Linked DNA regions of Homo sapiens: region 2 is linked to region 1. The links come from fine-mapping of genetic effects on gene expression. A gene starts in region 1. The other region holds a variant in brackets. All regions are shown on one strand. Distances are between the middles of the regions. Region 1 holds the start of SAXO4 (stabilizer of axonemal microtubules 4). Region 2 overlaps SYT7 (synaptotagmin 7).

What was found. PIP is the estimated chance that this variant, and not a neighbour inherited with it, causes the effect.
Region 2: its variant is the best candidate, but not a certain one, in a credible set for the expression of SAXO4 in gastroesophageal junction (GTEx, PIP 0.87).

What each region holds. Positions count from the first base shown.
Region 1 is chr11:61,478,728-61,483,106 of GRCh38, forward strand. SAXO4 (stabilizer of axonemal microtubules 4) reads left to right here and starts at 2,393. Exons shown (of 14, transcript NM_145017.3): 1 at 2,393-2,489; 2 at 3,055-3,191; 3 at 3,584-3,701; 4 at 3,928-4,081. The coding sequence starts at 3,083. RefSeq lists an enhancer at 3,830-4,124.
Region 2 is chr11:61,511,558-61,515,936 of GRCh38, forward strand. SYT7 (synaptotagmin 7) reads right to left here. Exons shown (of 13, transcript NM_001365809.2): 13 at 2,157-4,379. Among named protein-coding and RNA genes, the nearest start is that of LRRC10B, 5.0 kb to the left of the region's middle. RefSeq lists an enhancer at 1,284-1,897. The variant G/A (reference allele first, on the strand shown) is at 2,401.

The DNA of each region.
Region 1 (4,379 bases):
CTTGCTCGTAGCCACTTATCCAGGCACACTTAGAGGAGGGCCCCTCTCTCCCTTCACCCTGTGAGCACCTCACCTATGGTGGTCTCACCCTTTGTGCTTCGTGTGTGGAACTCCCACGAGCCTCTGTAGTAGAATGGGAGCACTTTGCTGGAGGGCAGGGCTGTGTGCACTCACTCCTGTGTCCTTGTGCCCTGTGATCCCTGAACAGAATCGTTAGTCCGGAGGGTGGGTGCCAAACGTGCTTCAGCTTGCCTTCCCATGGGGGGCTGGGTGAGGACACGAGTGAGCCTCCACCCTGGCAGGCCAGGTCACTACAGGATGAATGCGGCAAGGGCATCTCCTGGGTGAGGAAAGGAGATGCCTCCTTTCCCTTTATTCAGCCTTCATTCATACCTCACTCTCCCCTGAGAGCAGGGGTGCTCTGAAGCCAGCTCTACCGGCTCAGGAGAGCTGAAGGCGAAACTTCCAGGAAATTGGCAAGCTGGTTTTTAACTCTGCCATTGTTAAAAATTAAATTACTGGCCGAGCGCGGTGGCTGACGCCTGTAATCCCAGCACTTTGGGAGGCTGAGGCAGGCAGATCACTTGAGCTCAGGAGGTCGAGACCAACCTGGCCAACATAGTGAAACCCCATCTCTACTAAAAATACAAAAATTAGCTGGGCGTGGTGGCGTGCACCTGTAATCCCAGCTACTCAGGAGGCTGAGGCAGGAGAATTGCTTGAACCAGGAGATGGAGGTTGCAGTGAGCTGAGATCGTGCCACTGCACTCCAGCCTGGGGGACAGAGCAAGACTCCATCTCAAATAAATAAATAAATAAATAAATAAATAAATAAATAAATAAATAACTTAAACCTGCAATTTAATGAATTATATTAAAAACAAAAAAAAATACCTAAAACTCATCACCCCTTAATTATGTGAGTACATTTTTCTATTATTTGTGCTGTCGAGGTTACTTACGCCCATTATGTCTGCATGATGGGACTACTCCCGTACAGTGGTGAGCGACCTTCCCATGTCCCGGTTCAAAGACACTGTAGTGGTGGTTTGAAAGCAGCCCTGATGGGACCACTGACATCACAGAAATTGGCAAATGCTGCAAAGTAGGGCTATCCCACCCCACCCAGAGATCTAACTGTTACAACATTTACAAGCCTGAAAGCCAATTTGAGGCAAAAAGGCTGTCATGGAAGAAGATTCTCACTGTGGAGTTTGCGCACTCAGATTTGAGTCCAGGCTCCGTCTCCACCCACTGTGGGGCCTGGGCTATTTCCCCTTGAGCCTCGCCTTTCCTATCTGCAAAATAAGACTAAAAGTACAGCAGCTTTTGCAAATTGAGCATTTGCCGAGTGTGGTGGCTTGCCCCTGCAATCCCAGCAACTCAGGAGGCTGAGGCAGGAGGATCACTTGAGGCCAGGAGTTCAAGACCAGCCTGAGCAACATAGCAAGACGCTGTCTCTACAACAAATAAATACATAAATAAGCAAGTCAGGCAGGGGGGAGCACACCTGTAGTTCTGGCTACTTGAGAGTCTGAGGCAAGAGGATTGCTTGAACTTAGGAGTTGGAGGCTGGACTGAGCTATGATGGTACCTCTGTACTCCAACCCAGGTGAGAGCATAAGATCCTGTCTCTCTTAAAAAAAAAAAAGAGCATTTACTACCTGTCAGGTGCTGAATCCATGCTCTTGCTAAATCTGCCAGCAGCCCTGTGAGGTGGGTGCAGTCACGTCCCTTGCGAAGATGGGGATTTGGGGGCGTGAAGAGGATAAGTACCTCATCAAAGGTGACAGATCAGATTTGAACCACACTCTTAACTGCTGCGGTTTATTGGCCCTACAATAATAGTGCCCAGTTCACAGGGTGGTTTGGGGGATTACACGACGTAATGTGTGTTAAAGGGCTTAGCACAGATTCAGCTCCAGAGGAACATAGTAAATGTTGATTTACCGAGAGGCAGAAGAGCGGGATCCACATCCACCCACGTTTGAATCTCAACTTGGCTATTTTCTGATTGCGAGATCTCTGGAGTCAAGTCATTTTGCTTATCTAAGCCTCATGTTCCCCCAGTGAAAATGGGGATAATCATAGCTACTGAAGAGCTGCTCAGAGGATGGAGATAGAGGATGTAAAGTATCTGCCGAGAAGTGGGTACTTTATGGGAGTGAGTGTTCGGGATTATCTTTTATTTTATGTCACGCAGACAGCAACTCTTCCCAGCCCTGTGGAGGAGGCCGGAGGTTGGGGCCGGAGCCCTGGAAGCAGGGCCTTGCTCGGGCAGCTTCTGACCCTCCCCTCCTGGCCAGGTCAGCCCCTCAGTGGGCCCTGGCCCTAGAAGGTCTCAGAAGCCTGGGGACGCTGTTGCTAGGCACCAGTTGCTAGGCTACACATTGTTTCTCCTGCTTGGCCTCCTCCAGGAGGGCTGGCTTCTCTGCAGAGCTCTGCTTCCTGCAGCCTCTCCCCGACCTCAGAGCCTCTGCAGAGGAAAGGTGAGGGTGGGGCCGCTGTGGTTGGGCCTCGGGGAGAGTGCAGCCAATTCCCAGGGGAGGCAGGCAAGGCCAGAGGCGGGCAAGGCCATGGAGATGAGGGAGAGAGAGGAGCCGGGGGCTGGGAGTGAGCGCCTCGGCCTGACTTCTTGGGTGGGGGCCAAGAATTCCCCAGGTAGTGGGTTGTCGGCTCATTCATTCCGAGAGGTGGGTATGTAAGGTTCAGGTCAGGGGCCGAGTAGTCAAACACCTAGGTCTGAATCCCAGCACTACCACCTATTATGGAGCAAATCCTTTATCACTTGGAACCTCACTGTCCCAGTGGTAAATGGGGACAGGAAGAGTTAATAAGAAGGTGTGGGAAAGTGAGAGGAGACATGAGGACTCTTGGGATAAGTGTGGATGATCGGTTTCGTCCTTAGTTTAGGGACTTGGGAGCTGGGGCAGAGAGACAGAGGCCTGGGAGAAGGGGCCAGCTGCGTTGTGGGTGGTGGGGGGCAGATCTTCGCCCCTGTGGGCTTCCGAGCCAGGCTTGGGACCCATGAGGCTCCCCGTGCTTCCTTTCTAGGCCCCCTGGGGCCCTGCCCCACAGCATCATGATGGGGAAACTCCCCCTGGGGGTCGTCTCCCCTTATGTGAAGATGAGTTCGGGGGGCTACACGGACCCCCTGAAATTCTACGCCACCAGCTACTGCACCGCCTACGGTGAGGGTGCCTTTGCGCAGGAGCCTCTGCTAGGACATGGGCAGGAAGGGAGGGGCTCTCTCTGAGGGAGGAGCAGACCCTCTGGCTGTCACACTGCAGAGCAACTGCTGAATCCGTTTGTCCCCTGGGCCCTGCCCGGCTGCTCCCTTCTCTGGTTCTGTCCCTGCAATTCTGTCACTGTGATTCTGCCACACTGACCTTGTCCCCAGCCCACCCACTCCATTTCCTGCCATCACAGTCCTGAAAGGGCAGGCTTGCAAAGCTCCTGCCCGTGGCTCTGAGCCCTCCCCTGTCACTGTGACCCCTGTGCCCCTCGGAGGACGCTGGCCCTGCCTGGGAAGCCCTGCCTGTTTTTGACCTTGGGGTCTGTCTCCCCGTTACCCCTCTGGCAGGTCGGGAGGATTTCAAGCCCCGTGTGGGCAGTCACGTAGGCACCGGCTACAAATCAAATTTCCAGCCCGTGGTCTCATGCCAAGCCAGTCTGGAGGCCTTAGACAACCCGGCCAGGGGGTACGGTCTGTATGGCCCCTTCCCAGCCCCTGCCCTGCTCATCAGACCAACTCCAGGTTCCTTGGATGGGGACCCTGAGCTTTGCCTGCCCTAGGCTGGGGGTCCTGGGTGACTCAGGGCACAGCGGACCTCTGAGCCATCTGTGGGAGGGTGCAGGGAGGAGGGAAGCTCCTTAGCAGAGGACAGAGGCAGGCGGCCTGGGGTTCTAGCTCCTCCTCACCCTCAGGGAACAAGCCCAGGACCATTTCCAGTCTGTGGCCAGCCAGAGCTACCGCCCCCTGGAGGTGCCTGACGGCAAGCATCCCCTGCCCTGGAGCATGCGCCAGACCAGCTCAGGCTATGGGCGGGAGAAGCCCAGTGCGGGTCCCCCCACCAAGGAGGTCAGTGCTGGGCCAGGGCCAGGAGAGGGAAGCCTCAGGGTGGGGTGGGGCTAGGGCTGCACTGCCAACAGTTGGTCAAGGTGGAGGTGACAGGGCATGGAGCAGCCACCTTGTAGGGATGGGGTCCACTCATCTTTCTCCCCTTTGTCCTCATCCTTGTCCCCACCATCCCCACCACCTCTATTCCCTGCCCCAGCCCCACCATTACCTCCACCTCCATTTCCATCCCCATCCCTGTCCCCATTCCCATGAGCCTCACACTCCCGTCCACACCTGCAAGCCCCATCACTGTCCCTAC
Region 2 (4,379 bases), 33 kb after region 1:
CCATGGCAACAGGGGCATATGGGGCCAGAAGGTCAGGCCCTGCCCAGCAGCTCTGCTGGCACACTGGGCTGGGCCCTGGCTAAGGAGGAGGCTGGGCATGGGTCTGGGGCTGTCAGCTTGCAAATGAGAGTGAAGGCCTTGAACGGACAGAAAGAGGTGGTGGGTGGGGAAGATTGGAGACTGCCACCTTCCCAAGGAGGAAGAGGGTCTGGGGCCTGGCTGCTGTAGACCTTGTCCCTCCCAGAGTTCCCCCTGTTGGGGTTCCATCAGGGCCAGTGGGCCTTTCAGGGGTCTGGAAACTTGGAGAAAGTAATTTGAGAGAAGATCACTCAGGTGGGGTAGGAGCTGCAGCTGACTGGGGACTCTCCTCTTGACCTGCCACTTGTATCACAGCATAGGGAAAATACCCCTGGGCCTACAATCAGAAGGCAGGGGTTGCAGGCCTGGTTCTGCTATTGACCAAGTGATCTTGAGCAAGTCACGACCCCCCTGGGCCTTAGCTTCTTCGTCTGTACACGAAGAGTTGGGTTTATTTATTTATTTACTTTACTTTTATTTTATTTTCCAAGATGGAGTCTCTCTCTGTTGCCCAGGCTGGAATGCAGCAGCATGATCTTGGCTCACTGCAACCTCAGTTTCCCAGGTTCAAGCAGTTCTCCTGTCTCAGTCTCCTGAGTAGCTGGGATTACAGGTGTGCACCACCACGCCCGGCTGATTTTTTTGTATTTTTAGTAGAGACGGGGTTTCACCATGTTGGCCAGGCTGGTCTCGAACTCCTGACCTCAGGTGATCTGCCTGTCTCGGCCTCCCAAAGTGCCGGAATTACAGGCGTGAGCCACTGCACCTGGCCCAAGGAATTGGGTTTATTTAGATCTGATGCTGCAGCTCAATACTTCATGCAAGGGGTTTGTTTACCTTCCTTTCATGCAAATCTTAGACACAGAAGCAGCAGGGTGCAGAGGCAGCCATGGTCACCTGCAATAACTGCTGTCATTAGTGAGCTCAGGTCTCCTCCCTCTGTCTGATCTGTTTCCCTGTACCTCCTCCCCTGCTGCTCTCACCTGAGGACTCTAGGTTGGGGCAAAGTCCTGGCAATGAGTCCCCCGGGCCATCCTGAGGCACTCAGGGCCTTACCCTTTTGCTTTGTCAAACGTGGCACCCGCAGCCATGACTGCTTGCCAGCTGAGCAGGCGCTCCCCCAGGGAATGGGAATGGGCTCTGTCCCTGGCCCTGCTACTCACTTGCTCTCCACCCTCAGAAGCCAGTCCCTTCTGGAAAGTTTGAGTTTGGCTAAATTGGGTGCTGATGCTACAGAGCACGATTGAGGGTCTCTGTCTCCATGTGAGTAGGGAGGGAGCTAACTGCCAGGGAAAACTGGGTGTCACGGCTCCCCTCGGTGATGGAGATAGCACTGTATTAGGAGTCCTAGCATTCCCCCACCCACAACTTCCTGTGATTCCCACTTGGCCTCTGGGGAGTAGGGGGCAGGGGAGACTGGAAGGGACGCTTGTAACAATGGGACGGGATGGATGGGCTGCCTCTGCGGTTCCCCACATCGTCCTGGGGCAGTCAGAGGTGGGCAGGCCATGGGGGAATAGGGCAGGGAAGTTCTGCAAGAGTCATGTTTGTACCAGGGATTCAGGGGCAGAGGCCAAGGGCGCTGGTGGTCAGAGCAAGAAGCTTCCTTCCTACTGTGGGAACCAAGTGGAGGGAAAGGCAGAGGAGGCGGCAGGGCAAGAAACAGGGTTGGGGGGGGTGTGGGCGCGAGTGACTCACCCGTAAGCGGTGTGAGGACTCCCAACCCAGTGCTCACTGTGTCACAGAAGAGCTGCTTGGTCCCTGGCTGGCAGTCAGGTCTGTGAGTGGAATGGAATGGCTGAGAACTGCGCCTGTTCTTGAGGCCCCCGCCCCCACCAGCCTCCAGGCAAGCAGCCCTGCTGGCCAGTGTGGCAGCAGAGACCCAGGCCTGGAGCCTTTTCTAACCTTGTGAATGCCATTCCTCACCCCCTTCCCACCCACCCTCATGGGACTCAGGAAAGTGGGAGAACAGGTTCTTGGAGCTGGGGGCCCTACCCAGAAGTCCCTCCCTGCCTCCCATGCCACCACACTGGCTTACTCAGCCATCTGTCCCAAAGCTTCCCCAAGACACCTGGCGATCTTGTTCTGAAGATGAACGTTTATTAGCACACCTGGGCGTGCCACATGGAACATGTATGCAGACAGGGATCCCTGCCCAGGGGGCTCACAATCTACACAAGACACGACACATACACGCAGGACACAGACACGGGGAGCGGGGCGTCTTCACGGGAAACAGATGGTCTGGGGAGCCACGAGCTGGGGCATCGGCGTGCTCAAGGCTTGTCCTTCTGGTTGTCTTTGCGTGGGAGGGAGAGGAGC[G/A]CAGGACGTAACCCAGGACAGCCTTCCAGAAAGCAGCAGTATCCAGGGGGGGACTCACAGGAGAAAGAAAACACCAGAGGGCGGTGGTCCCAGGTACAGGGAGGGGTGGGGGAGCATCTCAGAGCAGGCATGGACGAAGACAGACCCAGAGAAGCAAAAATGGAGGAAGGCAAAAAGTCCAGGGAAGGGCCCGAGCCAGTGGCAAGGGACTGCCCCCTGTGCTGGGCCTGAGCTGTCTCTGACTTCAGGCTCAGTTTTCCAGGGCTGCTTTCATGGAGAGCGCCTGAACAGAAGCTCTGGCCAAGGGAGCCCCTGAGGCTACTTACCTGACCCCGGGGCTTCCTCTGATCTCTGGAACAGAGATCAGAAGTGATATCTAAACCAGGTTGTGGGAAATGAGGGACAGACAGCTTTGGATGGGGTACTTAGTGCAGCTCCGGGAGGCAGCTGCTGGCCCCAAGTGCTGGGAGCAGAGGGCGGATGGGATGGCCCGCTTCACTCCTGGTGGGGGCAGGGGCCAGCAGGTGGACACATGACAATGGGGATGTGCTCGTTCCTTTTGTGCCTGTGTCTGAACCAGATGTAGCACCTTCCTTCTGAAGTACCCTGAGAGCTGCGGGGGCTCAGCTTCCCCTGGGCTGGGTGGGGAAGAAAGGGCAGGGGATGGGGATGGTTATTGCTTTGTTGTGGCCAGAAGAAACAGGTGGAAGGAAAGAGCTTGCCCAGGGCCACAGAGGCTGCAGAAGGGATTACAACCCAGCTTCCCACACCTCAGGCTGGAACCTGTTCTATTGAGTGGAAGAGACTTTTCTAATCCTAAAGAATGAAACTAGAAGAGGGCTGAGAGAAGCCGCAGGTCCAGCCAACAGACACAGAGCTCATTGTCTTTCCTTTTCCCACCTCAGGGACCAGGAAGGAGGCGCTGGCCTGAAACTACAGTGGCCCCATGGATGGTGGTGGGAAAGCTGGAGCGTCCCCCTTTGGTTTGTCTGAGCTGCCTTGGAGGGTGGCAAGTGTCCTCTGGGAACTGAGGGAGGGGACGTCAGGCTGGGTGACCCTGGAGGGCACCCCTGAGGCCTAGAGAGGACTCTACTCCCAAAAAGCCTTGTGTCAGGCCTGATCTGGGAGATGTAGCTGCCTCTCTGCTTTCTGGGAAGCCAGTGGGATCATATTCTATAGAGATCTGAGGATGGCTGGACACTCGGGAAGGGCCTGGTCACCAGTGAAGTCAAATCCCAAAGGTGACACACTGAGGGGAGGCTCAGCCCCGGGGCCCCCATCCCCTTCACCCCACTGCCTCTGCCCCCAGGGAGGTGAGGGAGGGCTGGGACCCACGGAGGAAACAGCCAAGGCCCTACTTTTTCACGATCCTTTATTAATCAGAACAGGCCTTGCCACAAAAAGCAGGGCCCATTCCCACAAAAATATGATTTTGCAAAGAGGAAATCTTGCTGGCTTAGAGGGTATGTGTGGTGGAAAAATTTTGTATGGTTCTTTTTTTCCTGTTTTTTTTTTTTCTTCAGTTTTTCTTCATTTCTCTTCGCTGCAAAATTTTTTTTTTTGTGATGGTGGGTTTTTGTTTTATTTTTTATAAAACACTTGCACTCAAGAACATACAAACAGTGGCCACCAATCCCCACCCCTGGGGCTCCGGGGAGCCCCCCTGGCTTGTTTGTGGCTGTTTTCCTCTGTCCCTTCCCTGGCATCTGGTGCCAGAGGGCAGGTGCGGGGGTCCTGGGGCGGGTGGAATTTGTACAGCACTTTCATGGGGAGATGGTCACAAGAAAGGAAACCAGGACAAGATAAGGACTAAGTCTAGGGCACCCACAAAGATGGCAGACGAAGCCCATGAAAGGGCCTGCGACAGAGTGAAGAGACGGATGGGCCTGCGTTGGCCTCAGCTAGCTCTGGAGGCTCTGTGGGGGAGGGGCAGGTGGGCCTTGCAGTCAGGATTCGGTAATTACACTTTGCTCACGGGT